Homo sapiens: one gene and its partners. The protein of the gene in region 1 interacts with the protein of each later gene in a pairwise test. Each region holds a gene or a part of one and is shown in the gene's direction. Other genes may lie near its edges. The genes, in order: VAMP4, SSMEM1, KASH5 and SNAP29.

Region 1 (7,029 bases):
GACAGTACATTTAACTTGCTTATGAGTTACAAGTCAGAAGCAGGGCTAAAAGTAAGCTATCTTTAAATATTACTTTAATTTATATCATATTGTCTTTCATTATCTGAGTACTGAAGCCCACAAATGGAAGAACATTGCTACAAAGTCTTAAATTTAAATTTTATAGTTGAATAATTCTCTGAGAATTTGCTATTCTTTATTATGTCTAATGAAAGTTTTAAAAATTGTAAGCATTCTCAAAAGAAGGATAAATAATTGTGTATCTTTTTTAAACTAGTGTTCAGAATCAAGTGGATGAAGTTATTGATGTCATGCAAGAAAATATTACAAAGGTAATTGAGAGAGGGGAGAGACTAGATGAACTACAGGACAAATCAGGTACAGATCTTCATGTATTTCTTGATATTACTAATCTGTTTGCTAGTTTTTGTCTTCTACTTGTCTAGCCAACGTTTACAAATCTTGGCTTAGGAAATTGGCATTTGGTTCTTAAGTATATGATTTTAATGGTTTAATTTTAACTCCTTTACTTTGAGTCATCTTATTGTTTCATTATTTTTTAATTGTTCAGTGGAGAATGAAGAATTTAAAATTTCATTGTTGAAGAGTGAAGAGTAGAGCTGTTTTTTCTTTTGCCCTGTGATATTGATGAACTTTGTGTTTCTCATGATCTCAGGGCCTAAAGACCTACTCACTTTTCAACACTTGTTTCAAACTTATCTGCTATTTTTATTTTATGTTTTATTTGGTAACTTAGTCACCTTTCTTTACTTTCAGTCATTACACCTATAACCTATACCTATACCTATACCTATACCTGGCACGTACTTGCCACTCAAATATTGTTTGGTGAATGGCTGAATACCTGATTAATCTTTGACAGACTTTAGAAAAAAAAAAAACACCTCGCTTAGTCACATTTAAAATGTATATTGTTTTCCTTTAAAATCAGTCACTTTTGATATCTTCTAAGAAGCTAACTTCTCAACATGTAATTTTTTTTCTAGAGGTGTGCCAAGTATTTGAATTTTTAAAGAGTATTTTTCTTACTAGATTTCCTAAGTTTATTTATAAGCATTAAGGCCCTAAAAAGACTTTTCTTAATTTTATAATAAAAAAGAAGTGAGCAAACTGATCTGCAAGCTGTTTTTTGCTTTTTGTTTTCATTTTTTTAATAATGTAGAATGCCAGAGTTTGTGGGTGGAAAAAAGGGAGAATGCTGTTTTCATGCTTAAAAGGGAATAAATTTGCAGAAGTAGAAATTAATATTTTCTTATCTTTGTGTGACTAGATAAAAGAATCCTGTTATGTCGTTTAATCCTTCTCTCCATCCTCTATGTGATATAGAAAGCTTATCGGATAATGCAACAGCTTTTAGCAACAGATCCAAACAACTTCGAAGGCAAATGTGGTGGCGTGGATGCAAAGTAAGTAAATCAGAAGCTACTGGATAGACTGGTCAGCATCTGAAGTGGTATTCAAACACATGAAGAAAAAAGGGCCTCTAGAGCATAACCTCTGTGAGAACAGGGCCTATAACTGTCCTGAGACATGGTAGAAATTCAGTAAATACTTGTTAACTTAATTGCTTTTGGGATAGGGATAACTAAATAAATCAGTATGCCTAAAAGGATGTTTTCATAGATTTTTTTAATGAAAGTAATCCACATTTTATTAATATTTGACTACCTCTAAACTTATTAACTTAAAACAAATATACATTTTTTCTTGAAATTTACTATTAATACTTTTTTGGAGCAACCTCTATAGCATTATGTAGAGATATCAAAAGTAGGAGCTAGAGAAAAATATGACTTTCGGTTGAAAGGGTAAAAAATAAAAGCTTACATATCCGAATCTGTTAAGACAAATGGAGTTAAGAAAAAACTCCACTTCCCTCATTATTCCAGAAAAATAAAAAGTAAAAGAAATTTTTACCATTTTTAACAAGGTAAACATTGGAATCACTACATACTAATATATACTCCTGCAAAACATTGTATAGAAATACATTTACTTCTTAAATCCACTGTGGCTACTAATCATTAACAGAAAATGTTTTTCACGTTATATGAGCAAATCTTTTTTTTTTTTCTCCTGATTCTAGTTATAATTTTTGGCTTTGTTTAAAATTTAGACATGAACTCACTGTTTTTAGTCTCTCATTTTCAATTTCAAGTTTAGCAATAACTCTCCTTTTTTTTTTTTTTTTTTTCTTTGAGATAGAGTTTTGCTCTTGTTGTCCAGGCTGATCTCGGCTCACCACAATATCACCGCAACCTCTGCCTCCAGGGTTCAAGCGATTCTTCTGCCTCAGCCTCCTGAGTAGCTGGAATTACAGACATGTGCCACCATGCCCAGCTAATTTTGTTTTTTTTGTTTTTTTTTTTTTTAGTAGAGACGGGGTTTCTCCATGTTGGTCAGGCTGGTCTTGAACTCCTGACCTCAGGTGATCCACCTGCCTTGGCCTCCCAAAGTGCTGGGATTACAGGCATGAGCCACTGCACCAGCCAGCAATAACTTTCTAAACCTGACTTAGCCATATGCTGAGGATTTTTTCCAAGAGTTACCTTGGATTTATTTATTTTTATTTGTCTACCTATTGAATCGTCCTACTTTCAGAAGTGGAACTGAGGGAAGAAATATGTTTCATTTCTCCCCTTGTTCAGAATTTAAATTTTCTATTCTATTTTAAGTTATTTATTCTTTAAAGAATAAATTTATTTTCTTTAAAGTCTTTTTTTTTTTTTTTTTGTGGCACTCTTGCTGTGTCTCTGAGGCTGGAGTGCAGTGGCACAATCTTGGCTCACTGCAACCTCTGCCTCCTAGGTTCAAGTGATTCTCATGCCTCAGCCTCCTAAGTAGCCCAGGTTCAAGCGATTCTCCTGCCTTAGTCTCCCGAGTAGCTGGAATTACAGGCATGCACCACCACACCTGGCTAATTTTTGTATTTTTAGTAGAGACGGGGTTTCACTATGTTGGCCAGGCTGGTCTTGAACTTCTGGCCTCGAGCAATCTGCCCACCTCAGCCTCCCAAAGTGCTGGATTACAGGCATGAGCCACCACACTTTGCCTAAAGCTTCTATATCTATAGAAATTTTCTATTCTGTGGGCTAATTTAGAAAAACAAAAAGTCCATGAGCCACTCACCCCTTCTCTCTCCCAAACTCATGTACCCTATTCATGTATCCACAAAAAGATGGTCATAATGTACATTTTGCCTAGCTTTTTTTTTAACCATTGCTAAAAATGTTTGCTTTGTACTTTATGGGGTTTGGGTCAGAGGAATAGCGTGCTTTTAAGGAGGAAAAACATTGAGTCATATTTTTAAATAGTCATCACCTTGAGAACCTCTGGGGACCATGAATAGCATCGACCATGTAATGAAAATCATTGTTCCATAATGTAACAAACACCATTTACAGTAGCGAGTATTCTTCATTTATTATTTTCTAATGCTTAGCTTCCTTCAGTTTTACTGTGCCCCATTAATACTTCATTGTGCTACTGTTCATCTGGGGCAGCCTCCCTGTGCCTGCCATTTTCTAGATTGACTTCCATAATGGTAATTTCAGAAGGGTTTTAAGAAAAAGGATATAAGGGCAGAACGCAGATCAGGAGTTGCCAGTGGCTAAGGGGGATGTCGTGCAGTTGGAGACTCACAACAGGTCATGAGGAAACTTGTTAAGGGTGTTGGTGGAAATGTCCTATATTTGATTGTGGTCATGTTTATTAACAGCTGGATATATTTGTCAAAACCTATCAAAAGTATTTTAAGAGGATAAGTTTTATTCTTTGTAAAGTGTATCTCAATATACCTGGCTTTAAAAATAAATGAGTTAATAAAATTATCCATAGGTGGGGAAAGAGAATCGCTAACACCTCTCTTAATATATCTGGGGGCTGTGAAACTCTTATATGTTTAATGACAAACAGATTTTTGTTCATGTTATTTGGAATAAGAGAGCTTTGGACTTGCATGAATACAATACTGCCATTTGGAGCTGTAAACATTTTCTGCCCAGTGTTAGAAACCCAAGGAAGAAAACTCTATTCATTGAGGTGTTTTAAAATTGATATTGATGTTTTCATTCAAATCTTCTTAAGTAAAGCCAAACACACGTTTAACAGGGCAAATTAATGTACATTTCAGGTAAAGTTGAAAAACTACCGTAGAAATTCCAAATTGTTTTAGAAATGCTTCAGATTAATAAAAAAGGCTTAAAGTACTTTATCATATAAACTGAACCTCTATGATTTGATGGGCTTATTACTAATGTGAGACCAGAGAAAATGTACAGTATTTTAGCAACTCTGTTCAAGTGTCAAGATATGATGAATAACATAGGCCATGCAATTCAAATGGTTCAATACATCGAAGGTAGCAGTTTATAGCACTTTTTTTCAAAGTATATGAGAATTCTGTTAGTTTTTTCTCCCCTTACTTTCTTCTTTGCATTTTTATCTCCATTTTGAGGAATATATTTTAGATTCTTTATGAATAGCCTCATGTAATAAGCAACTTTGCCTAAGAGCATTCTGTGTCAGTTTTGTAGTTAAGAAACCTTAAGGTGATGAGATGATTTAGTATGATGCAGTAAATAGAACAACAAATAGTCTTGACTTTATTAACAAGTCAAATATTAATATATATGCCCTTTTGTGTGTTGTAGATAAAAGCCATCATGGCTTTGGTTGCTGCTATCCTTTTGCTAGTGATTATCAGTAAGTATTTATTGGATTATTACTTCCTAGGGTATCATTTATTTTGGAGTTCATTTTAATTCCCTTTTATTTTCAGTTGACCTAGTATGTCTGAAGTCAGGATTGAATAATGACTTCTGACCTGTCTCAGGAGCTCTTAGAATCTATTGATCTCTGAAAATGCTCTTAAGTAATATGTAAAATTTTATGTGAATATGTATATGTACATTTTTATGGAGAGAGGGTCTATATCTTTTGTCAGATTCTCAAAGGGAACTCCTGTTCTGCCCCCAACCCTCACCCCCAAATCCAGGGCTAAGTGATTTGTTCAAGGCCAAATCTGGTTCCTATTACACTAAGGTCTAAAATACTCATTTTCTATTTATTATTAACTCTCAGGAATGGCAGTTTGCATTTTGTAATATTGTTTTGGAAGTATAAATCCAAATACGTTCTCCAGATGATTTTTTTTTGTTTGGTTTTTGTTTTGTTCTGTAGTTGAGCATAATTTCCATCATTAAAGCATGACTCCTTCCCGTCCTTTTTCCCTTAATGTTCTTTTAAAAATCAGATCATTTTAAATATCTCTTTTTCTTCAAGGCCTCTGCCTATGTTTACAGAGAGGTTTTATGACGCTTTGGAAAGTATCTAAAAATAATCATTTGAAAAATTATATTATGCTGTTATATTTTTAAACAGAAAAAAATGTTTTGTTACAAAGAAATACAGTCAGTCCTCATTATTCATAGATTCCGTGTTTGCAAATCCAGTTACCAGGTAAAATTTATTTGTAACCCCAAAATCAGTACTCATGGTGCTTTCACAGTCATTTACAGACATTTTCAGAGTAACAAAAAATTGTAAGTCCCCCAACCCACACATCCCTAGCTGAGGTTAAACAAAGCCATTTCTGCCTTTTTATTTCAGCACTCATAACATAAACATTCTTTTTGTAGTCTATTTAGTACCACATTTTCTGCATTGTTGTGCTTTTTGTTGGTGATTTCACTGTTTAAAATGGTCCCCACACGTGGTGCTGAAGTGCTGTCTAGTGTTGCTCAGTACAAGAGAGCTGTGATGTGTCTTCATGGAAAAAATACACATTAGGCAAACTTTTGTTCAGGCATGAATTATAGTGCTGTTGGCCTTGAGCACAGTGTTACTGAATCAATAATACATATTAAATAAAGTGTCTTTAAACAGAAACACATATAAACCAAGGTTATGCATTGATTGACAAAAATGTAGTAGCCAGAGACTCACAGGAACTTAACCCTATATTTTCCCTAGAAGCAGTGGTTCCATATTCACTAATTTAGTGTTTGTAGTGACCTTATAGAAAATAATTACCTCAGAAACCAAGAATCAATCATGTATATATAGTGAGCAATTGGAAAATGTGAAATATTAATAACAAAAAGAAGAAAAATTCAACTATAATCTTACAATTAGTAGAGATAGCTACTAATATAACTATTATATATACTTCTCTTTTCCTATTAATATACAAGCATGTTTTTTAAAAAACTAAGACTATATTATATGTACTTTCTAATAAATATATTGTGACTATTATCCCAGGTTATCAAAATTTTTAGTAATATTTTAACAGCAGATACAAGCTATGGCTATGCCATTATTTATTTAAGATGCCAATGTTAGACATTTAGGTTGTTTTATGATATTTTTTGCTTCTCCTTTCCCATTGATTATTTATTACCTCAGATAAAAGTTCAGTCAATCCTCATTACCCATTTCTAAAAGTAGACACAACTACATTTAGGAATATTGCTTCAAACATAGCATATATATCTGATGTTGATATATTGCTTTTTTCATGTTTTCTCTTACAGTTCTTATAGTCATGAAATACCGTACTTGATTTGATGACAGAGATCTTCATTAAACAAGATCTGGGACAGTAATAAAAGATTGCTGCATAATTTAAATGAAACCTATGTGTATATAACTTTCAAAACTTCTTTTTCAAGAAACTAAGAGGCAAGTATCACTTCAAATTGGAACGTTGAGAATGTCCAATTATCTTCTCCCTTTCTAACAAAATGTTCTTTTAATAATTATGTTTAAGGCAAAGAGAACTAGCCTCTATTTTTCCATATTTCAAGGATCTAATTTGAAACTAGATACTTGCCAGTTCATTATTTGTGTATATAAACACTGATTATAATATTTCATATTAATATTTTAATGGCATAAGGACTTGCATTATTGCATTAGGGAGCGGGTCATGCTGGGGGTCAGGAAGCCTGTGTAGAGTACCAAATTATATGCTGAAAGAGATGCATAACCATTCTGTCAATATTT
Region 2 (6,514 bases), on another chromosome or scaffold:
CTGTGGAAATGATATAAGCCTAATAAGTGTTTTTAAATACCTTCTCCTGTCTATTACAAAAGTACACATTATATAGAAAATGTGGAAATTATAGGGCAGAAGACAAAATAAAATAAAAATCACTCCAGATTATGTAGAAATAACCAACTACTGTTAACTTTTAGGTTTATAAACTTCCAATTATTTTGATTTTCTTTACATATATTAAATTTATTTTTTTCCTTTTCTATAACCTAAGTGATACATATTAAATTTAAAATATTTAAGCCTCTTCCAAAAGCATTTTTTATAAAGTGGTATCTTTTTTTTTTTTTTTTTGAGACAGAGTCTCGCTGTCACCCAAGCTGGAGTGCAGTGGTGCAATCTCTGCTCACTGCAAGCTCCGCCTCTCAGGTTCACACCATTCTCCTGCCTCAGCCTCCTGAGTAGCTGGGACTACAGGCACCCACCACCACACCCGGCTAATTTTTTTTGTATTTTAAGTAGAGACAGGGTTTCACCGTGTTAGCCAGGATGGTCTCGATCTCCTGACCTTGTGATCTGCCCGCCTCAGCCTCCCAAAGTGCTGGGATTACAGGCATGAGCCACCGTGTCTGGCCAGAAAGTGGTATCTTAAAAGTGAACTCCGCTTTCAAGATTTTTGGAGAATGATTGCTGTAACCCAGAAAACAAAAAGGCACCTCATTAAAGATGCTTGCCTACCATTGCAGAGATCAGATATTAAGAATGAGCTGAGGATCTTAGATTGCAGTTATAAATACCGAACTATGGCACTTTTCATCCCAAAGAAACTGGACTTCCACATAAACTCATTTTTTTCCTAATTGTAGACAATTTGAAAAAATTAGAAGAGAAAAAGTCCATTTCACCACTTAAAGCCAACCATAGCTATCACTTTTATATGCTCCTTAAAGTCTTTTTTTTCATATTTTAAGCTAATTTGTCGCTCAAGCTGTATATACAAATTTGCATCTTGATGTTTAACCCAGTATGGTAGCACACTTATTTCCTCATGTTATGACATACTTTTATTATAATAATTTTACAACTGTTTATTATATAATTGTACCATAATTTACTTAAACCATTGTCTACTTTTGAATTTTCTATTATCCTAATTATACTGTGATGAATGTTTCTGTGGACAAAGCTTTCTTTCTTCTGAGGGTTATTTCTTGCTGATAGATTCCTGGAGAGAGAATTATATGTCAAAGGTGTTAATGAAAATTTCTAGTTTTTGTTATTTTCTGAAAGAGTTGGTTTATATCTGTGTCTTTTGGCAAAATCACTTTCAGCATTAGAAAGTGGGACACTAATCTGAAAAATGGGACAAATATATTTATGGAGTATTGGGGGGCAGAATATTTGAAATTGAAACTATTCAAAGAAATCCATTTCTTTTGGTTGCTGTATTCACAAATAATATATCATGATTACATTTTGGAGGAAACTTTCGGAGGGATTAAGGAGATATTAAGTTCATGAATTCGGTAAAGATCTTTGTGTATGGTAGATGTCTTCTGTCTTAAAGAACTATCAGTAATGTACCCTGATCAAGTGTCCTTTAAGAACTAAACTAATCTGGGCCAGGCGCGGTGGCTTACATCCGTAATCCCAGCACTTTGGGAGGCTGAGGCAGGTGGATCACCTGAGATCAGGAGTTCGAGACCAGCCTTTTCAACATGGAGAAACCCTGTCTCTACTAAAAATACAAAATTAGCCGGGCGTGGTGGTGCATGTCGGTAATCCCAGCTACTCGGGAGGCTGAGACGGGAGAATCACTTGAACCTGGGAGGCGGAGATTTCAGTGAGCTGAGATCGCACCATTGTACTCTAGCCTGGGCATACAGAGCAAGACTCCGTCTCAAAAAAAAAACAAAAACAAAAACAAAAAAACAAAACAAAAAAACAACAACTAAACTAATCTGAGTACTATCAAATTTTTTAAAAACACTACTTCTCTGTAATGTAAATGGGTACAGGAAAGCTTTATAAGCTATAGCTCCTTGTCAGTGTTATTTTCTCTCAAGTCTGTTCCATTTTGTTTGGTCCAAAACATTTTGGTAGATGCTGCTATCAAAGCATAGTCTTAATGGGAAGTGGAAGTAGGATCACTATAACAGGAACTCAATACATACTGAATTAGCTTATTATTTAACTCAGTAAGTACTTGTTTAAACTGAATGTTTAAAATTAGACATTGTCAGGCCAGGCCCAGTGGCTCATACCTGTAATCCCAGCACTTTCGGAGGCCAAGGTGGGCAGATCACTTGAGGTCAGGAGTTCAAGACCAGCCTGGCCAACATGGTGAAACCCTGTCTCTACTAAAAATACAAAAATTAGCCGGGCGTGGTAGCGGGCACCTGTAATCCCAGCTACTTGGGAGGCCGAGGCAGGAGAATCACTTGAACCCGGAAGATAGAGGTTGCAGTGAGCTGAGATCATGCCACTGCACTCCAGCCTGGGCAACAGAGTGAGACTCTCCAAAAATAAATAAATAAAATAATAAAAAAATAAAACCAGACATTATAAATGGGCCTCAGCAATAGTGTTTTATAACAAGTACATATTATCAAAAAACAACTGAGATCACTCTTACTAACCTATGTTTCTGAAACAGATGTCTGAGGATAAAAAGGATGAAGGCAGTGGGACAAGTACTTCAGTAAGGAAAGGTGAGAACCAGTGCATATTTGGTGTTGGACTATGAGGGGAAGAATATGTGTGGTGTTGCATGCCTGTAGTCCCAGCTACTCAGAAGGCTGAGGCAGGAGGATTGCTTGAGCTAAGCAGTTCAAGACCACAGCTTGAGAACATAGTGAGACCCAGTACCAAAAAAAAAAAAAAAAAAAAAAGAAAAGAAAAGAAAAAGAAAAAAAGAAAAATGAAATAAAGACAAAGAAAGAAATTTGTGCTGAGTGTGGAAAGCAAAAAACAGAGATGAACAGCCAACAGCATTGTAAGACTTTGCACACTAGAGGAGGCCCATTGGGGTTGGGTGAGTTTTTGCTTTGGACTCCCTAGTGCAGAGGGACAGTTTAGCTGCTTAGCAAGAAGCTATGAATTACTGGGAGGTGGAACTCAAGTTCTTTTTTCACTCCTTAGCTCTCTCCCTTCACATTGCTTGCCCTTCCCACATCCTCATGGTTAGTGCTATTACAGGATTATGAACTGTCTATGACATCTTTTTCAATAACCTATAAGCAGTGGTGCACTGGTAAATGTTTAACAACTGGTTCTCCAAAACTCCTGTGTGTACATATGCTTACTAAAAATTTTACTGATATAAAGGTTGCACGTCATCTCAGCACCTCCAGAGGCTGAAGCAGGAGAACTGCTTGAGGCCAGGAGTTCAAGATCAGCCTGGAGAACATAGCAAAACCCTGTCTTTTTAAAAAAGAAAATTAGCTGGCATGGTTGTTCGCACCTGCGGTCTCAGCTACTCAGGAGGCTGAGGCAACAGAATCACTTGAGCCCAGGAGTTCGAGGCTGCCAGTGAGGCATAATCATGCCACTACACTCCAGCCTGGGCGGCACAGTGAGTCCCTGACTCTAAAAATTTAATAAATAAATAAATAAAAATAAATAAATATATATCACACCATTTAAAATAATAAAATATACAATACTCCTTATGGCCAATTTCATATAGACAACTGATTCTCACAAAACGCTCTCCTTCATTTTTGCCAGACCCTTGCACCTTAGCCAACCATGGCTGCAATTGATGAACAAGTATAGTTCCAGCGTGAATGTTATTTTCCTCTAAGTTAAGGAGTGAGATGAAAATGAAGCAGAAGATAGATGTATGTTGGAACTTAACTTGGTTGTCAGTGATGTGAGTGACTTCTTTGCTGGAATGGATAATAGTTCTAAAATACTGGAAGAATATTTCCTCATTTTGCAGGGTTAGTCACAATGTAGTGGCTACAGGGATGATACTGAAATGTAATATGTAATCTGCATTAGTAACATGTTCTCCATCATTTTCTTAAGCCTAGACAATCAACAAAGCCATACATCAAGCCCTGATGTTTAGTGTCTGCTGATTTTCGTGGTATAAATACTTCCACCAAAGCTGATTTTAAGCTATCCACCTCATGTCATTGAACATGGAGTTGGGAGGAGATGTGCAGTAGTGCACCCTTAACATAGAATTTCCGCCGGGCGTGGTGGCTCACGCCTGTAATCTCAGCACTTTGGGTGGCCAAGGAGGGTGGATCTCCTGAGGTCAGGAGTTCGAGACCAGCCTGGCCAACATGGCAAAACCCTGTCTCTACTAAAAATACAAAAAAATTAGCTGTGCATGGTGGCACGTGCCTATAATCCCAGCTGCTGGGGGGCTGAGGCAGGAGGATCACTTGAACCTGGGAGACAGACATTGCAGTGAGCCGAGATCGTGCCACTGCACTCTAGCCTGGGCAACAGAGCGAGACTCCATCTCAAAAACAAAAAAAAACAAAACAAAAAAACAGCATAGAGTTTCCAGCATCCAAATACAACGGACATAAAAAACCAGAAGAGCACATAGCATAAACAAATGTAGTAAGATAATTAGGAAGTGATGGGTTTTGAGTATTACCTCTATTTTTAGTAACTTAATTTATTGTAAGTTGGTATAATTTAATTTTTAATAATGGCTATGTTTAACCATCTCTCAAAATTCCTGAAAGTTTATCAGCTCTTCTGAGCAGGTACAAGCCAACTTCCTCACACCACTACGTAAAGGAAAGATCCTTCTTAGTTCCTGCTCCCCAAATCACATTCATATACCTGCTTGAATCTGTAAGACTTCAATTTTCAAAGGGAAAAAAGAGTTCTTCCCTGGAAAAGTTTAGAGATCTTTTCCTTTGACCTTATGTTTAGCATCCACAAAACTTCAAAAGTGATATGGTGATATGTCAAGCATCTATCTAAGCTCTCTGGTCTGCAGGAGTTGGGATATGGTACTAGAAAATGCAGTCAGCTGCCAACACTTGCAGGTGACTGGAGAAAAGCAATGGCTTGACAACTGGCCACTAAGAGTGAGCTCACACGTGCACAGGCTTCTTAAGTAATAGGAATTCATAGTAACCAACAATATTACTAACTTGATATGTTTCATTGGTTGTTAGCAAGCAAAGAGACTTCCTGTAAGCGGCAAAGCAAAGACAGTGCCTGGGATCCCTCACAAACAATGAAGAAACCAAAGCAGAACCAACTTACCCCTGTAACCAACTCAGAAGTGGCTTTGGTCAATGCCTATCCTGAACAAAGACGAGCCAGGCGCCAGTCTCAGTTCAATGAGGTGAACCAGAACCAACATGACAGTGATACTACGGAGTATGGCAGTGAAGAGTCTAACTCAGAAGCCTCCTCGTGGAAGGAGAGTGAAAGTGAACACCACCCATCACCAGACAGTATTAAGAGGAGAAAAATGGCTCAGAGGCAAAGGAATCTGGGAAGTTACCAAATGAGCGAAAGGCACTGCCTCCACTGCAAAGCCTTGAGAACCAACGAATGGTTGGCGCACCATTCCCGACAGAAGCCTTCAGTAACACCGCCAATGAAAAGAGACAGTCAAGAGGAAAGTTCCATATCTGACATTAACAAGAAATTTAGTAAATTTTGAATTTTATCACGTTCTTCCTTCACTTGAAGCCAAATGAAAGAGATGAATAAAACATGAAAAATCACCAGAGCTATAGGTGAGGAGACTTTTACAACAAAGTCTCTCTACCAACAAACAAAAACATACTTGGAACCCAAGAGGTAAAATCTCACACAATTCTTCGTTCAAAAAAAAAAAGGCCATCACGTGTTTATGGCACCATTGGAACACCAAAGATCTATATCTGCTATGATTTTTTTATTTGAAATAGCACAAGACAGATATTTTGTGCCTTGAGTGTATATATTTTGTGCCTTGAGTGTATGTATTTTGTTTATGTCTGTAATATGAATAAGAAAGCTCTTTGAAAATGTATTATTTATGTTGAGAAACCACTTAAATGTATTCAGATGTTTTGCTTATCTGACTGACTGAATGAACTAGGTGAAGTTGGTTGGAATAGAATTGCCCCATCCTCTCTAGGTTTGACCCTACAAGAACTGTATTGCCACACATGTCAGCTAGGGGCTGGTGTGGAAGAGGAGCTCAAGAGGCTGGAATAAGATCTGATTCCTGGAGTAGGGAGGAGAGGCAGCATGACCCAGAAGGCAGTTGGCAGTGGGCTACCCACGGTTGTCATCCACAAAGTGCATGGCAAATGTTAAAGGAAAAATTATTCTGACACTTGTTAAAATGGCCAGGAGGACTTCATTCAAGACTCTATTGCAATAGAGAGTAGAAATTGAGCTCCACTCTGAATACAACAAGGACAAGTGGGGATTTATAGCCAGGAGCAGGAGGAGGACATCACAGGATGGGAAATTACCAAAGAGAGACATCAAACATAGGAGTATTCCTGATAAAGTGACCTAACAGGATTCATGCTAAAGGCAGGCCAAGGACTTACACATCAAAAGTGGAGAA
Region 3 (7,029 bases), on another chromosome or scaffold:
TGCTCGTGTCTGCATCCTGCTCTTTGACTCTGTACCTGTCCTTTCTTTTCCCTTTTCTGTTTTTATCTTTTGTGTCTCTCTGATTCTTATCTCTCAGCCTCTGTTTTGGTCTTTTTATCTTTCCCTTGAGGGTTCAGACTTCTCTCTCTCTCTTTTTTTTTTTTTTGAGACAGGTTCTCACTCTGTCACCCAGGCTGGAGTGCAGTGGGGGTGATCACAGCTCACTGTACCCTCCGCCTCTGGGCTCTAGCGAGCCTCCCACCTCAGCTTCCCAAGTAGCTGGGACCACAGGCCCACCACCCTGCTTGGCTAATTTTGTTTTATTTTTTATAGAAATGAGTTCTCACTGTGTTGCCCATGCTGGTCTCAAACTCCTGGGCTCAAGCCATCCTCCCGCCTTATCCTCCCAAAGTGCTGGGAGTACAGGCCTGAGCCACTGCACCCAGCCTAGATTTCTCTCTTTATTCTTTAACTCTCTGATTCTTCATGTCACTCGCCCTTTCATCTCTCTGTGCTTTGTCATTCTTCATGTTTATCGTGGTCTCCCTGTTCTAGTCCCCCACTCTCTCTAGGTCTCTTTCCCACTTCCTCAGTCTTTTAGGTTAAAACTGGGTCTCTGTGCCCACACCAGGTCTCCTTCTCCTCTTTTCTCTCTGGGTCTCTGTCCTCCCCTCTCTCTGGGTCTCTGTCCCTGCCTACCACCTGGGATCTCTCTGTTGCTAGTGTCTCTCAGAATGGATCTGTCTCTGTGCTTCTCTGCCTTCCTCCCTCTCGTATGGCTCATCTGCCCCCACCCGCATTCAGCACCCAGCAGGCCCTGCAGTTTGCCAAGGCCATGGATGAGGAGCTGGAGGACCTGAAGACTCTGGCCAGGAGCCTGGAGGAACAGAATCGCAGCCTTCTGGCCCAAGCCCGGCAGGCGGTGGGTCTGGCCCAGGGGAAGGAAGGTGCCCTCTCTCTTCTTTGTTTCCTGGAGTCAGGGCGGCAGAGTGTGACTATGGAGTAGGAAGGGGCAGAGGTCACCTGGCTTTCTCCCTCTCTCCAGGCCCTGCTCACCCTAGACTTTTTCAAGCTTACCTGCCATCCTTCTCATGACAAAGGAGACAGCAGGAGCCATCAGGGCTTCCCAGACCCATTCCCCCAGGCCCTGGTTGTGTTTTCAGGGGTGGGAGAAGGGCAACATGGGGGCAAGGAGGCTAGAAATGAAACCTTTGTCCTCTCTCTGGGGTTGGTCAGGAAAAGGAGCAGCAGCATCTGGTGGCTGAGATGGAGACTCTGCAGGAGGAGGTGAGCGGAGGCCCAGCACCACCCCCACCCCTTCCCCAGTCCTTAAGGTCTTCTTGACACCACTCCCTTCTGCCCCCAACACCCCAGCAGCCTGTCTTGGGGAGACCTCAGAATGTCAGTAGTGTGGGAATGTCCCTGAGGTTATATCACACTGTGAGAACAGCCGTGGTTTACAAGAGTGTGAGGCATGGGGTCAGCCTACATGGCTTCAGGCTGAGGCCACCTACATAAGAGTGGACCAGTGCCTCCCTTCTCTGTGCCTCAGTTGCCTCACCTATAAAGATGAACAAAACAATGGCATCTGCCTCAGTGGTTTGTGTGAGACTTCAACCGAAGGATACTTGCAAAGTCTTGGGCACAAGGTAGGACACATAGGATGTGCTCACTAAAAGTTATCTAGCATTGTTTCTATATTAGTATTTTTTACAGTGAATAAAACAGCCAGGCACAGTGGCTCATGCCTGGAATCCCAGCACTTCGGGAGGCCTAGCTGGGTGGACCCCTTTAGCCTAGGAGTTCGAGACCATCCCGGGCAACATGGCAAAACCTTGCCTCTACAAAAAATAGAAAAATAAGCCAGGCATGGTAGTGTGCACCTGTAGTCCAGCCACTCAGGAGGCTGAGGTGGAAAGACTGCACGAGCCCGGGAGACAGAGGTTGCAGTGAGCCAAGATTGCATCATGGCATTCCAGCCTGGATGACAGAGCGAGAGCCTCTCAAAAAAAAAAAAAAAAAAAAAATTGGATTTGAAGTCAACCTTGAGTTCAAATCCCATCTCCGCCACTTACACAATAGGCAACCTTTAAGCATGTGACTTCTCCTTCTCAAGCCTTTACTTTTAGTTTCTTTTTTTTTTTTTTCTTTTTTTTTTTTTTGAGACAGAGTTTCATTCTTGTTGCCCAGGCTGGAGTGGAATGGCGCGATCTTACCTCATGGCAACCACCGTCTCCCGGTTCAAGTGATTCTTCTGCCTCAGCCTCCCAAGTAGCTGGGATTACAGGCATGTGCCACCACACCTGGCTAATTTTGTTTTTTTGTTGGTTGGTTGGTTTGTTTGTTTTAGTAGAGACGGGGTTTTTCCATGTTGGTCAGGCTGGTCTCAAACTCCCGACCTCAGGTGATCTGCCCACCTCAGCCTCCCAAAATGCTGGGATTACAGACATGAGCCACCACACCTGACCTACTTTTATTTTCAAAGAACTGGAAGAAGGGTATCTGTTCAGTAGGCTTGTTTTGAGGATTGACAGCATTTCACTGAGGGACTAGCAAACAATATGAAGAGACTGAGTTCAGCTTCACATTTAATTCAAGCCCCGTTCCATCCAAGACAGAAAAACATCATCTTAGTTCATTCTGGGCCCACCTAATTTTTTTTAGATTGAAACAAACTCATCAATTGACAATGAAACCTGTCACCACCCCCGACCTCAAGGTGGTATCTAAGTTGCAGGAGACTGATGCAGGAGCCTAGTGCTCTAGGAGGCTGCTGATCCTCACTCAATGTTTCTCCTCTCTGCTGTTCATGAGATTGATGGGTTTTGTCCAAGCGTTTGTCACCACTGTGTGCTGGCATCTACTGTGAGGCCCGCATTGCCTTTGGATCTCTGGACATACCATCTTCTTCATCTTCTGGTGGTGATCCCTTATCTGGGCTGGGACTCTTACTCCACCACTTCCACACCCTTCCAGAGCCAGGGAGGTGATTTGGCTACTTTCCTGTGAAAGGGAAGAGGCTGGGGTCACTGCCCAAAGCCCCTGCCTCATTTCCCCAGGCCAGGGTGGGTGCTCATGGTGGGGAGATGTGGCTTCTCTGGGGAAAGAGAAACAGGAGAGAGATTCCTCTGTTCTCCCTGAGCTGTTAGCAAAGTCCCTGTCCGTCACTCATTTCCCTGAAGGATCCCAAACCCCACCCAGGCCTTGACAGACTGGAGGACACAGGGCTGGGGTGGGCAGAGGTCTGGAGAGGACCCACCAGTGAGGCCTCTTTGCTTTCACAAGAAAGTAGCATCTCTATTATTCTCACACCGTGATGATTCTGAGAGTGCTCTGGGAAGTACACGCAAGGCCTCTCAGATCACAAGACTTCCAGGGCTCTGCGGTTCTCCATCCATACCCTCCACCCCTCATAGCTAGCCCTGGGTTAGGGGAAAACTCTGGGCTCATTTTCAGCCTATTCTCTTCTCTGTCTGTCCTGCATTCCTCCCCCAGCTCTAAGGATCTCTGCCTAGTCCAGACAGATCATGTATTCCCAAAAAATATCTTTGTCCTACATGTGCAGTGTTTTTTACACTGAAATCCAAAATCTTTCTGCTATTTTCTGGCTCTTCCATGAAAACTCACCCCCTTGGGGCAATGGGAATCTCACAGCAGGATGGCTGTACCATGTGAGACATGGAATGCAGCAGGATGTGACAGTTTCTTTCAGAACATCCCTTTTTAAGAATGAAAAAGTTGCCAGGCGCAGTGGCTCACGCCTGTAATCCCAGCACTTTGGGAGGCCGAGGTGGGTGGATCACCTGAGATCAGGAGTTCGAGACCAGCCTGGCCAACACGGTGAAGCCCCATCTCTACTAAAAATAAAAAAATCAGCCGGGTGTGGTGGCACACACCTGTAATCCCAGCTACTCGGGAGGCTGAGGCAGGAGAATCGCTTGAACCCAGGAGGCAGAGGTTGCAGTGAGCCAAGATGGTACCAGTGTACTCCAGTCTGGGCGACAGAGCAAGACTCAGTCTCAAAAAAAAAAGGAAAAGAAAAACTTTCCGGCTGGGCATGGTGGCTCACACCTGTAATCCCAACACTTTGGGAGGCCAAAGCAAGATTGCCTAGGCCAGGAGTTCGAGACCAACCTAGGCAACATAGTGAGAGCCCGTCTCTATAAAACAAAAAAAAACAAAAAAAGTAAATAAAAGAATGAAAGGCCAGGCACAGTGGCTCACGCTTGTAATCCCAGCATCTTGGGAGGCCGAGATGGGTGGATCATTTGAGGTCAGGAGTTCGAAACCAGCCTGACCAACATGGTGAAACCCCACCTCTACTAAAAATATAAAAATTAGCCAGGCGTGGTGGCAGGCGTCTGTAATCCCAGCTACTTGAGAGGCTGAGGCAGGAGAATCACTTGAACCCAGGAGGCAGAGGTTGCAGCGAGCTGAGATTGTGCCACCGCATTCTAGCCTGGGTGACAGAGCGAGACTCTGTCTCAAAAAAAATTTTTAAAAATGAAAAACTTTCCCTGAAGCCCCCTGGCAGAACTTCCTGCCTTACAGTTCATTGCCATTCAGCCATTATAACCAGACTACATGGATAATATGGCCACTAATGGGTCCAGAACGCTCCAGGGAAGAGAACAAAGAAATGATGACTTCAATCTACACGACATTCATTTCCTTAACCAGAGGTTTAGAAGAAGGTGGTCTCTGGGAAGAAGGTGGTCTCTGGGAAGAAGGTGGTCTCTGGGAGGTTTGGTGGCTCCCTGGCTGCCTGTGGCCTCATTATTGCAGATGACTGCAACAGCTTCAATCTCATGTTCTCATTCAAAGTAGGAAAACGTGGGGCAAAGGGGAGCCATGAGGCTGGGCGCGGTGGCTCACACCTGTAATCCCAGCACTGTGGGAGGCCGAGGCGGGCAGATCACAAGGTCAGGAGATCGAGACTATCCTGGCTAACATGGTGAAACCCCCGTCTCTACTAAAAATACAAAAAATAAATAAATAAATAATTAGTTGGGCATGGCGGCGGGCCGCTATAGTCCCAGCTACTCTGGAGGCTGAGGCAGGAGAATGTCGTGAACCCAGGAGGCGGAGCTTGCAGTGAGCCGAGATTGTGCCACTGCACTCAGCTTGGGCGACAGAGCAAGACTCTGTCTCAAAATAAAAAAAAAGGGGGGGGGCAGCCAGGAAATGCCCCTCTCGTGGCTCCTTTCATCAGAAGCCTCTCACCCCACCCCCAGCAGCTCTTACATCTCACTGGCCAGAACTGGCTGACATAACGCCCCCAGCTGCAAAGGAGCCCAGGAGAATATGTGACCTTTTTCAGCCTCTAGAGTGGCAGGTGAACAAGTGAGAAGGGGTGAGAATGGCTGCTGGCTTAGCTAACCAGCTGAGCTTCCTGCATCTGCCAAGATTTCCACCTTGACTCACTCCCATGGCTGGGGCTGGGACCCATCTGCCCTCAGACAGAGAGAGTAGATCCCTCGACAAAAGCAGAAGGAGTAAGCAGGGTAAATAGCAACCAGCAGTCTCATCTCTACCTCCTCCCCACCAGGAAGGCCTGCTGCCAGGTTGAGTGCCTTGAGCAGCATCTGGGACACCCTCGGCCCTCGATAAACTGGAGCTATTCTTGGTTCCCTCCCCTCTACCTTCCCCCTCCACACAGCTGCCTACAGAGCATCTATAGATTGAGTTCTCAAGTTACAGTAGAATAATGCTGGAGTAACAAGACACTCAGACACTGAAGATCCAGGCAGCCTTCCTGTGGAGAACCTACAGAGCTGTCTCAGGTTACTGCAGAAGGAGGCAGGAGCAGCTGAGTAACCAGGTTCCCTGCCGAGTGGCCCAGGATCTGGCCTGCAAATCCCTACCAGGTGGACAGATGTTGAGACAGCACTCCTTTCCCGTCCTTCCTCTGCCCTTCACCTGGCAGCCCAGGCCCACTGAGACAGAGGGAGAGCAGCTGATGGAGGACTTGGAGCTGGCTGGAGGGAGGGAGAGGCTGGCCTTGGTGTATCCCCTGGAGTGCCAAGAGGAGGGGCGTGGTGAAAGGGAACTCTGGACTGCCTCCATGCCCCAAAGTGCATTTCCCCAGTGACCACCTCGCTTTGAAACCCTGTGCAACTTGATAGGTTTTTGGTGCCCCTAAACTTTAGACTGGAATCTGGGCCATTTTATGTTCAGGTCCCATTTCATGGCTGGCATGGGCTGCCCTCTCCGGCCTATTGTTTTCCCAGCTAACTGCCCTCAGCCTTGAAGACTCAGCAACGCCTCCTCAGGAAGCCTGTTAGTGCTCCCATGGTACCCAGGCTGTAGGCCTCACCAGAGCCCACCTCGTGCATTGTTACCCGCTTCTGCATCCATCGCCACCTCTAGAGCCTAATTCCCTTTGTGTCCCATTCTCACCCAGGGCTGTGTCTGGCTCACATGAGAGTCTGAGGATTATAAACAGAATTTGGAATCACACAGATTTAGGTTTGAGTCCATTTACCATGTGACCTTGCCAAGTCTCTTAGCCTCTCTACTCCTTTATAAAATTGGAAATGATTATACTATTAATAGGGCAACCAGACTTGGCATTACTCCTGAATGGCACAATTTGATATGTATAGCACCACCCAATCTTGCCAAGAAATTGAACAACAGTCTGGACAAGGCCCTGGATCTACCTACCAGTTTATAAGAAATAATGATAGAGGAAAGTGGTGAACATAACCACAGGGAACAAGAGCGCAATCAGCCTAATCTGAACGCACCAATCCTACAGGACAAGGGACCTGCTTTCTTCCACAGAATGAGGGCCTGAAGAGTACCAGGGTCGGGGTGGAGGGGGCAGAAATTACTGTCAGATTAAAAGAAGTAAGACATTTCAACCAAAAGCAATGATGGACCTTGTTTGGACCCTCAATCAAAGTAAATGTAAAGAAATCTCTGAGACAACCAAAATGAAAAAGGAGCACAGGCCCGGTGCAGTGGCTCACCCCTGTAATCCCAGCACTTTGGGAGACCAAGAAGGGTGGATTACCTGAGGTCAGA
Region 4 (7,029 bases), on another chromosome or scaffold:
TTAGGTGATCTGCCCACCTCAGCCTCCCAAAGTGCTGGGATTACAGATGTGAGCCACTGCGCCCGGTCCTAACCTTGTTAGGGAGGTTTTGCCTGTAGTTCTTACATCTCATACCTACTGGATTCCTATGTTCCATTCTAAATGGGAAGTCTTGGCTTAGATTTGAGAGGATTGCCTGAGGTTTTAGGGCCCTGGTGAATGGGTCACATGATTGAGGATCTCAAGCCCAAGGAATTCAACTAACAACTATTTAAGGAGACATCTTTGTAAACTGAGAACAAATGAAGTAGGGAATCAATGATTCAAAGTAGGGCATTGTGGCAGAGGATAAACTTGAATCTAGCTTTTAAGGCTGAGGTTTACACAAGAGGAGTGAGAATGAGGGATGTTCTTAGGGAAGACAGGAAAATATGCAAATGCACTGGCCCAGCAACAGAGCTCCTGGGTCCAGAGGAGGGACATGATAGACTGGGTGTGTTAGAGGACAGGGGATGGAGGAGGTAGCTTAGGAGCCCTTGGAGGTCATAGGGAAAGTTCTGGTCTCATAGCGCAGGAGAGGCAAAAATGTAATAGTGGTGAGTTTGATATAGATTGTGATGACATGCCCCGTGCTGCCCCCAAAGGTCTTTCTATGCAGTGGGGACAGTGAGAGCTGAGGCAGAGTGGCACTTCAGGCATATCAGGCTTGGCCAGGCCAGGCATTGCTGTGAGAAGTACAGTGTGGTCATGACTGGGCAGGTGACAGGTGCTCTTGTCAGTGAGACAACATGTTGGAATTTTCCAGGATTGGGTCAGTTCTCAATTATGAGAAGCCCTGGGAGTCAGGGATGACCTACATCTCCACCACACCCAGTGTTCTCCAAGCTGTCTTTGTTTTTGTGTTTTGTTTTGGGGGAGGTTTTTTGAGATGGGGGTCTCACTCTGTCAACCAGGCTAGAGTGCCGTGGTGCAATCTTGGCTCACTGCAGCCTCTGCCTCCAGGTGCAAGTGATCCTCCTGCCACAGCCTCCCAAGTAGCCAAGACTACAGGTGCACGCCACCACACTCGACTAATTTTTGGTATTTTTGGTGGAGATGGGCTTTCGCCATGTTACCCAGGCTAGTCTCGAATTCCTGAGCTCAGATGATCTGCACACCTTGGCCTCCCAGTGCTGGATTACAGGCTCCAAGCTGTCTTTGAATCACTCTAATCACTCTTTCATTCCCTTTGGTGTTGGGATGGGAACAGAGGAGTATGAGCTCTTCCAACCCTCAGTGCACAGTGTGGCTTCCAGCAAATTCCAGCATACCCTGCTAATCACCCAACTTAGGTGCCTGGTTACCCCAGCACTGTGAAACATGCCAACACATGACAGATTTATGTCAAAGATGAGGACTTTACAAATTATATTAGGTTGGGAAGATTATAATTCAGTCCCAGCTTGGCAGGAAAATGGCTTAGTTAAGTCACCTCTAGCAAAGAGAGCTGCCCTTCTCCTACTGTGAAACCTGGCAAGGATTGTTTCTCACAAAGGCTCAGGCCACAGGCTATGACCACAAAAGAACAGAGGAGAAGTAGTGGGAGCAGGGCGGTTTCCCCAGGCCGACCTGGTAGGCGCTTTGTAGAACTACAGGGAGACTTGTAAGCCACTCGTCTCTTTCCCTGTTTAGTAAGCATGATTTCTTCTTTTTTTTTTCCTAAGGTTTAATTTTTATGAAGAGAGATTCCAATCACATGGTTCAAAATTTCAAAACATACAAAAGGGTGTAGTCTTCTCCCACTTCCCTCCCTATCATCCCTCTGCCCCTAAGGCAGCCAGGCACTTTCCCTCCTTCAGTGTTTTGGGGAGATAATGCCGTGGATAAAAATGGGTTTTTTTTTTTAAGTGAAGTATTGTATACATTCTGGTCTGCATGTGCTTAATAGAATGGAGTTTGTTCCACACTAGTATGTAATGAGCTGGGCTTTCTTTTTGGCTGTGTTGTATTCCATTGAACAAATGACTTCTATTTATGCAGCCTGTCCCCTAATGATGAGCATTGAGGTTGTTTACACCTTTTGGTGAGTCTATTTGCATCCTACTTGGACATGGTTTTTGTACACCTTTTCATCACTCCAGTGGAGGAGACTCACCTGCCCAGGACACTCTGCTTCCCCTCTTGTAGCTGAACTTAACTCCACTGAGGTTTTCTGGGGCCCGAGATCTCGGTTCAGGGGAGTCCAGCAACAAACATTAGACCAGGGTTGGAACGGCTGGCACAGTAACATCAATGGAAAGGGACAGAGTTTGAGAGTTCAAACGTGATGCACTCAGCAGCCACCGCCAGCACATCCTCCACACCGTCTCGTGCAGGGGCCCACCCATCTCTGTGTCTTTCCAGCACACAACAGTCACCCACACTGGGCATTCCATTCAGAGGTGGGAGAGAGGAGGACACCCCTCCTGGCCCAGGAGCAGAGGCCATCAAGGTGTCCCCGGAACTTAGAGTAGATACATTGCCAAAAGGTGATATCCTCATTCTCAGGGATTCTGGTCTTGGAGCAGCCCACTCCAAATGAGGGGCCGTACAGACCAAAGTCACCCCTCTGAGGCAGCGTGTGGTGATACTGATGCAGCCAGAGTTCTTAGCAAAAGTTGATGGATGGGGACAAGCAGCTGCTAGATTAAGTAATTCCTCAAATTTGTAAATGTCAGCAGTGGAAGAGGAGCAGTCTCTTACCCATCTCTTGCTCAACTTTCTACCCCCACGCTTCTCAGCACAATGTCCTTAAGCGTTATTGGCGCTCCCAAAATAGTTGCCAAATGAATAAGTGACCTGGGGAAGGAAAGGAAGGAGGGAGGGAACAGAAGATTGCCTGAAAAAGGAGGAGAGAGTTGGGTGGAAAGAATGCATTGAGCTGTGTGCCTTGGTTGCAATGCCTGTCCTGTGACCAGAAAATGCATCCCAACACATGTCAGGCTGTGTCTAGCAGGTGGGAGGGAGTCTGGTGGAGAAATGGCATTGGACCACATACTCACCGCTAGGTCTGTTCGGGATTTATTTTTAATTAATTTTTGGTAAACTATCAATGATTGAATTTGACCATTGATGGCCAGGTGTGGTGGCTCACACCTGTAATCCTAGCACTTGGGGAGGCTGAGGCAGGTGGATCCCTTGAACCCAGGAGTTCAAGATCAGCCTGGGGAATGTGGTAAAACCCTGGCTCTACAAAAAATACAAAAATTACCTGGGCATGGCGGTGCATGCCTGTAGTTCCAGCTACTCAGAAGGCTGAGGTAGGAGGATCTCTTGAACCAGGGAGGTCAAGGCTGCAGTGAGCTGAGGTCATGCCACTGTATTCCAGCCTGGGTGACAAAGTGAGACCCTGTCTCAAAAAAAAAAAAGAATTAGACCATTGATCCCAGGCCAATTTGCTGGCTTGTTGGCTGTAACAGGATGCCTTCTGAGGATGGGCTGGTTGTTCGAGCTTCTGGCTTCTCCTTCCTGGGCACATCCACTCACAGCTGCCACATTGTCCCAAGGAACCTTGCTTTGCTGACCAGGAAACATGCTGTGACAAGCTGAGCGGCCATCTGCTATACAGCTTTCTGCCTCTGAGGTGTTCTTAGAGTGGGAAGTGTTGTAGGGAGGTGTTTGGGGGTTCCCAAGACTACCCTCAACTTCACTGATTCACTGGAAGGATGCACAGAACTGTTACACGTATGGTGATGGTTTCTTACAATGAAAAGATGCTGATTAAAACCATCAAATGAAAAAAGTGCATAGGGCAGCGTCCAGGGGAAACCAGGCACAAGCTTCCAGTTGTCCTCTCCCCATGGAGTCATGTGGACAACACTTCTCCAAGCAGTGCGTGACAACACACACAGAGTATTGTCAACCAAGGACCCTCACTTAAGCCTGGGTGTCCAGAGTTTTTTGGGGAGTCTGTCACATAGGCATGGCTGAGTATAGTCTCCAACCCCACCAGAGGTCAAGCTGATAACGTGTAGCCCAAGGCCACCATCATATATCACATTGTTAGCATAGTCTGTCTGACCTGGTCTAAGCTTAGGCTCACTTGAGCAAGGACACTCTTATCAGGCAGGATATTCCAAAAACAAGGAACCAGGCTAGGGCCACACCTCTCTTTGGAATGTGGAGTGTATGGACAACCCAGAGCTGCTGAGCTAGCCTTTTGCTCAGCCCCAGGTTGGCCTGCACACAGACGGCGAGGGGCACCAGCACTACCGCCTTTGCCCTTGGTGGTTTTTCCTGCACCCTAAGACCCGATTTGTCTCTGAATCCACCCCATACTCCAGCTGCCACAGTCAGAGCCCCGGGTTTGAGCATCTGCCATGGGTGCTCACGTATCCCTGCCAAGGCTTGTGCCTGTGCACACTCCCTTGGGAAGGGAGAGATGGAACAAAGATAAATTTCAGATTTCTAGATTCAGCTCACTGACTCCAGATTGGCCTCCGTCTACTTATGATGAACCTCATTTATCAGAACCTGAGTTTACGAGCTCAGTATGAGAAACACAGTATTGATGCCCTTCCGTCAGGAACCTGGGGAGGTCTCGGTCACGGAAGCCCACCTGATGTTATAAGATGTGTTGGCTGCGAGTTGCAGTTGAGATCTGTTGGTCACTGCTGCCCTTTGAAGGCCTTAGTGACATCCTGTGGGTGTTCCCTGCCGAGTCCTGTGGGTAGCCCCGCTCACTCCCCACACGGTTCCTCTGCCCCTGCACAAGCTGCACCCTCTGCCTGGTGCCCTTGCCCCACCCCAACTCTTCGTTGTGATTTGTTTTTAGGAAAACTAAGTCCAAATGGACAGGACCCCCAACTTTCTGACTGCCTAACTTCTCAGTCTCTCCTCCAGCCTCAACAGGGAGCCTCTCTGACCCCCACCTTAAGCTAAACAAAGAGTCTGCAGGGAGAGGTGACTCTGTGTGTGTATGTGTTTGTGTGCACGCGTGCAGTAGCTTTAGTTTCTGCCTCCCCCACAGGACTGTAAGCTCAGTGAAGCAAGGACTCATCTGCCTTTCTTGGATTCCGAGCATTGCAATGTTGTCAACAAATGAAAAGCTGAGATTGAACCTCACTCATCTTGCTCTCTGTTAGACTGTAAACACCATCAGGACAGAGACTTGGGATTGTTTCGTGGACAAAGAGAGAACTCTTGTTGGGGTTCAAGGGAGTAAGAAGGGCATCACCTGTAATGCTTAGTAATCACTGAAACAAGGAAGCACTTTGCATGTGCGTCCTTTACACTGAGGGCACCTGCGGAGCTCACTCCCCTAGCAGCCACCCAAGTCCGTTCAGGGACCTCATTCTCCCACGGGAAGTTGGAGAAGATGGGCCGTGGCTCTGCGGAGGGGGGTGTGGACCTGCCTCGGTACCTGGAGCGGTTGAGGCCTGTCTTGGTGGTGGCTGGGGCACAGGTGTCTGCCTGGCCTGTCCTTACAGACTGTCAGTGTTCTCTTTCCTGGTATTTTGGTGTTTGCTCTGTCAAACCCTTCTTCCTCATTGGTTGGAACTAGGTCACAAGCACATTAAGTCCGGTCATTTCCTCTGCCTTCTGGGGGTGGATTTTAGCAGAAGAAACAACTCCTCCCTTGCTGGCCTCATGACCTCTGGTGAACACTAGCTTTCAGCAAACAGAAACTTCCAGAGGCCAGAGCAGCACTCAGTCGCCTGGCCTTCCAGCCTCACAGGCAAGATAAGCCACCCTCACAGACTTCTCTGTGCTCCCATCTAAACATCTAAATCAGCCATCTGGTTTCCTTAACAGTAGCACAGACTCTGGGAGTTTGAGAGAATGTGTCTCTTGTGAATAAGAGAAAATAAGTCCATACTGGGGAAGGTAGCTCTCCAAATTGAGATGAGGAGGTCAGGGTGGGAGGGTGAGTGGTCGTGGGTTGGCCCTGATGGGAGGAGCTCACCATCAGGGAAGCTGAGGACCTCCCTCCTAATGTGACAGCAGAGTCTTGGCCACCTCTTCATTCCCCAGTCCCCAACCTGGCTGCTCTGAGTGTCTTTCCAGCTACTGGAAAGCTTCTTCTGCAGCCTGCAAAGCTAGCTGGAACTGGACTGTCAGAAAAACATGTAGATGCTGGAGAAAATCTGTTAATCCTAACGTATAGCTCTGCCTTATTCCAGAGAAGACCGCAGTGTGGACATGAAGATGATAAACTTGAGGTGATGGAAGGAGCAGAAATGCCAGATACATTAGCAGCTCTTTTTTCTTTTGAAAACTAGCCCTTGCAAGATTTGCTTGACATACTGAGTGACACTATCCAGAAAACATCTTTTTTTTACTTAAAAAAGGCTGATGGTTTGTTCAGACATCTCTTGTGAACTAGTGAAAAACATAAACGTTGAAAGCTGTAAAATTCAGCAGTTCTAAGTTTATTTCCAGCAAGAGTTAAACAAAGTTTAATAGTAAATTCAACCAACCAGTGTTTTAGCTTTTTGCCTATACATTATGTTTTTAAATTTCACCCATTAAACAAGGACTCAGGTTACACATTGATTCCTTAAGGACTTTAAGGAAGCCACAACCATTTATTTATAGTTGCATTTTGCTCTTCAGGTTTCCAGGATGTTTAAAATTTTTTTTGACTTTGTTTTTAGGCATCAAGAGAGAATATATCTAAAAAACATTTGCATAGTTAGTGTAATTGCTAAGCCACAGGGTGATGGGTGGATAGATTCAGAGGAAGGCAGCTGAGGGCAGAGGCTGCCTGACAGAGCAGGAAAAATGAAGCTCGAGAGCCTTCTGGCTGGAAAGGCAGCTCACAGATGGGCCGCAGCTGTAGATCAGTTCTGAACTAGGGACTGAAGCAAGTTTGTCGTAAATAAAGGAAAGTGGTAGTGTTGATGTTGTGAATGTATATCCACAACCAGAACCATCAGCTCTGGAGGGACCATCAGGCTGCCACTGTGGCCACAGAGCATCACTCACGTCTCCATTGGGCAGATTTGCAGAGACTCAGCAGTGAACAGAGCAAGTCCCTGCCTCGTGGAGCTCATATGCTGTGAGCGGTGGCTCATGCCTGTAATCCCAGCA

The links.
Region 2: the proteins of VAMP4 (region 1) and SSMEM1 interact in binary tests that used the Homo sapiens proteins (3 or more experiments, as listed by UniProt).
Region 3: the proteins of VAMP4 (region 1) and KASH5 interact in binary tests that used the Homo sapiens proteins (3 or more experiments, as listed by UniProt).
Region 4: the proteins of VAMP4 (region 1) and SNAP29 interact in binary tests that used the Homo sapiens proteins (3 or more experiments, as listed by UniProt).

What each region holds. Positions count from the first base shown.
Region 1 is NC_000001.11:171,704,063-171,711,091, reverse strand, and holds part of VAMP4 (vesicle-associated membrane protein 4), read left to right. Parts: intron 1-277; coding exon 278-378; intron 379-1,291; coding exon of another isoform or gene 1,292-1,347; coding exon 1,348-1,427; intron 1,428-4,673; coding exon 4,674-4,725; intron 4,726-6,557; coding exon 6,558-6,586; 3' UTR 6,587-7,029. UniProt on the Homo sapiens protein: Involved in the pathway that functions to remove an inhibitor (probably synaptotagmin-4) of calcium-triggered exocytosis during the maturation of secretory granules.
Region 2 is NC_000007.14:130,210,860-130,217,373, forward strand, and holds the end of SSMEM1 (serine-rich single-pass membrane protein 1), read left to right. Parts: intron 1-2,620; coding exon 2,621-2,675; intron 2,676-5,114; coding exon 5,115-5,611; 3' UTR 5,612-5,985; downstream 5,986-6,514.
Region 3 is NC_000019.10:49,398,221-49,405,249, forward strand, and holds part of KASH5 (protein KASH5), read left to right. Parts: intron 1-804; coding exon 805-922; intron 923-1,236; coding exon 1,237-1,287; intron 1,288-7,029. UniProt on the Homo sapiens protein: As a component of the LINC (LInker of Nucleoskeleton and Cytoskeleton) complex, involved in the connection between the nuclear lamina and the cytoskeleton.
Region 4 is NC_000022.11:20,862,002-20,869,030, forward strand, and holds part of SNAP29 (synaptosomal-associated protein 29), read left to right. Parts: intron 1-7,029. UniProt on the Homo sapiens protein: SNAREs, soluble N-ethylmaleimide-sensitive factor-attachment protein receptors, are essential proteins for fusion of cellular membranes.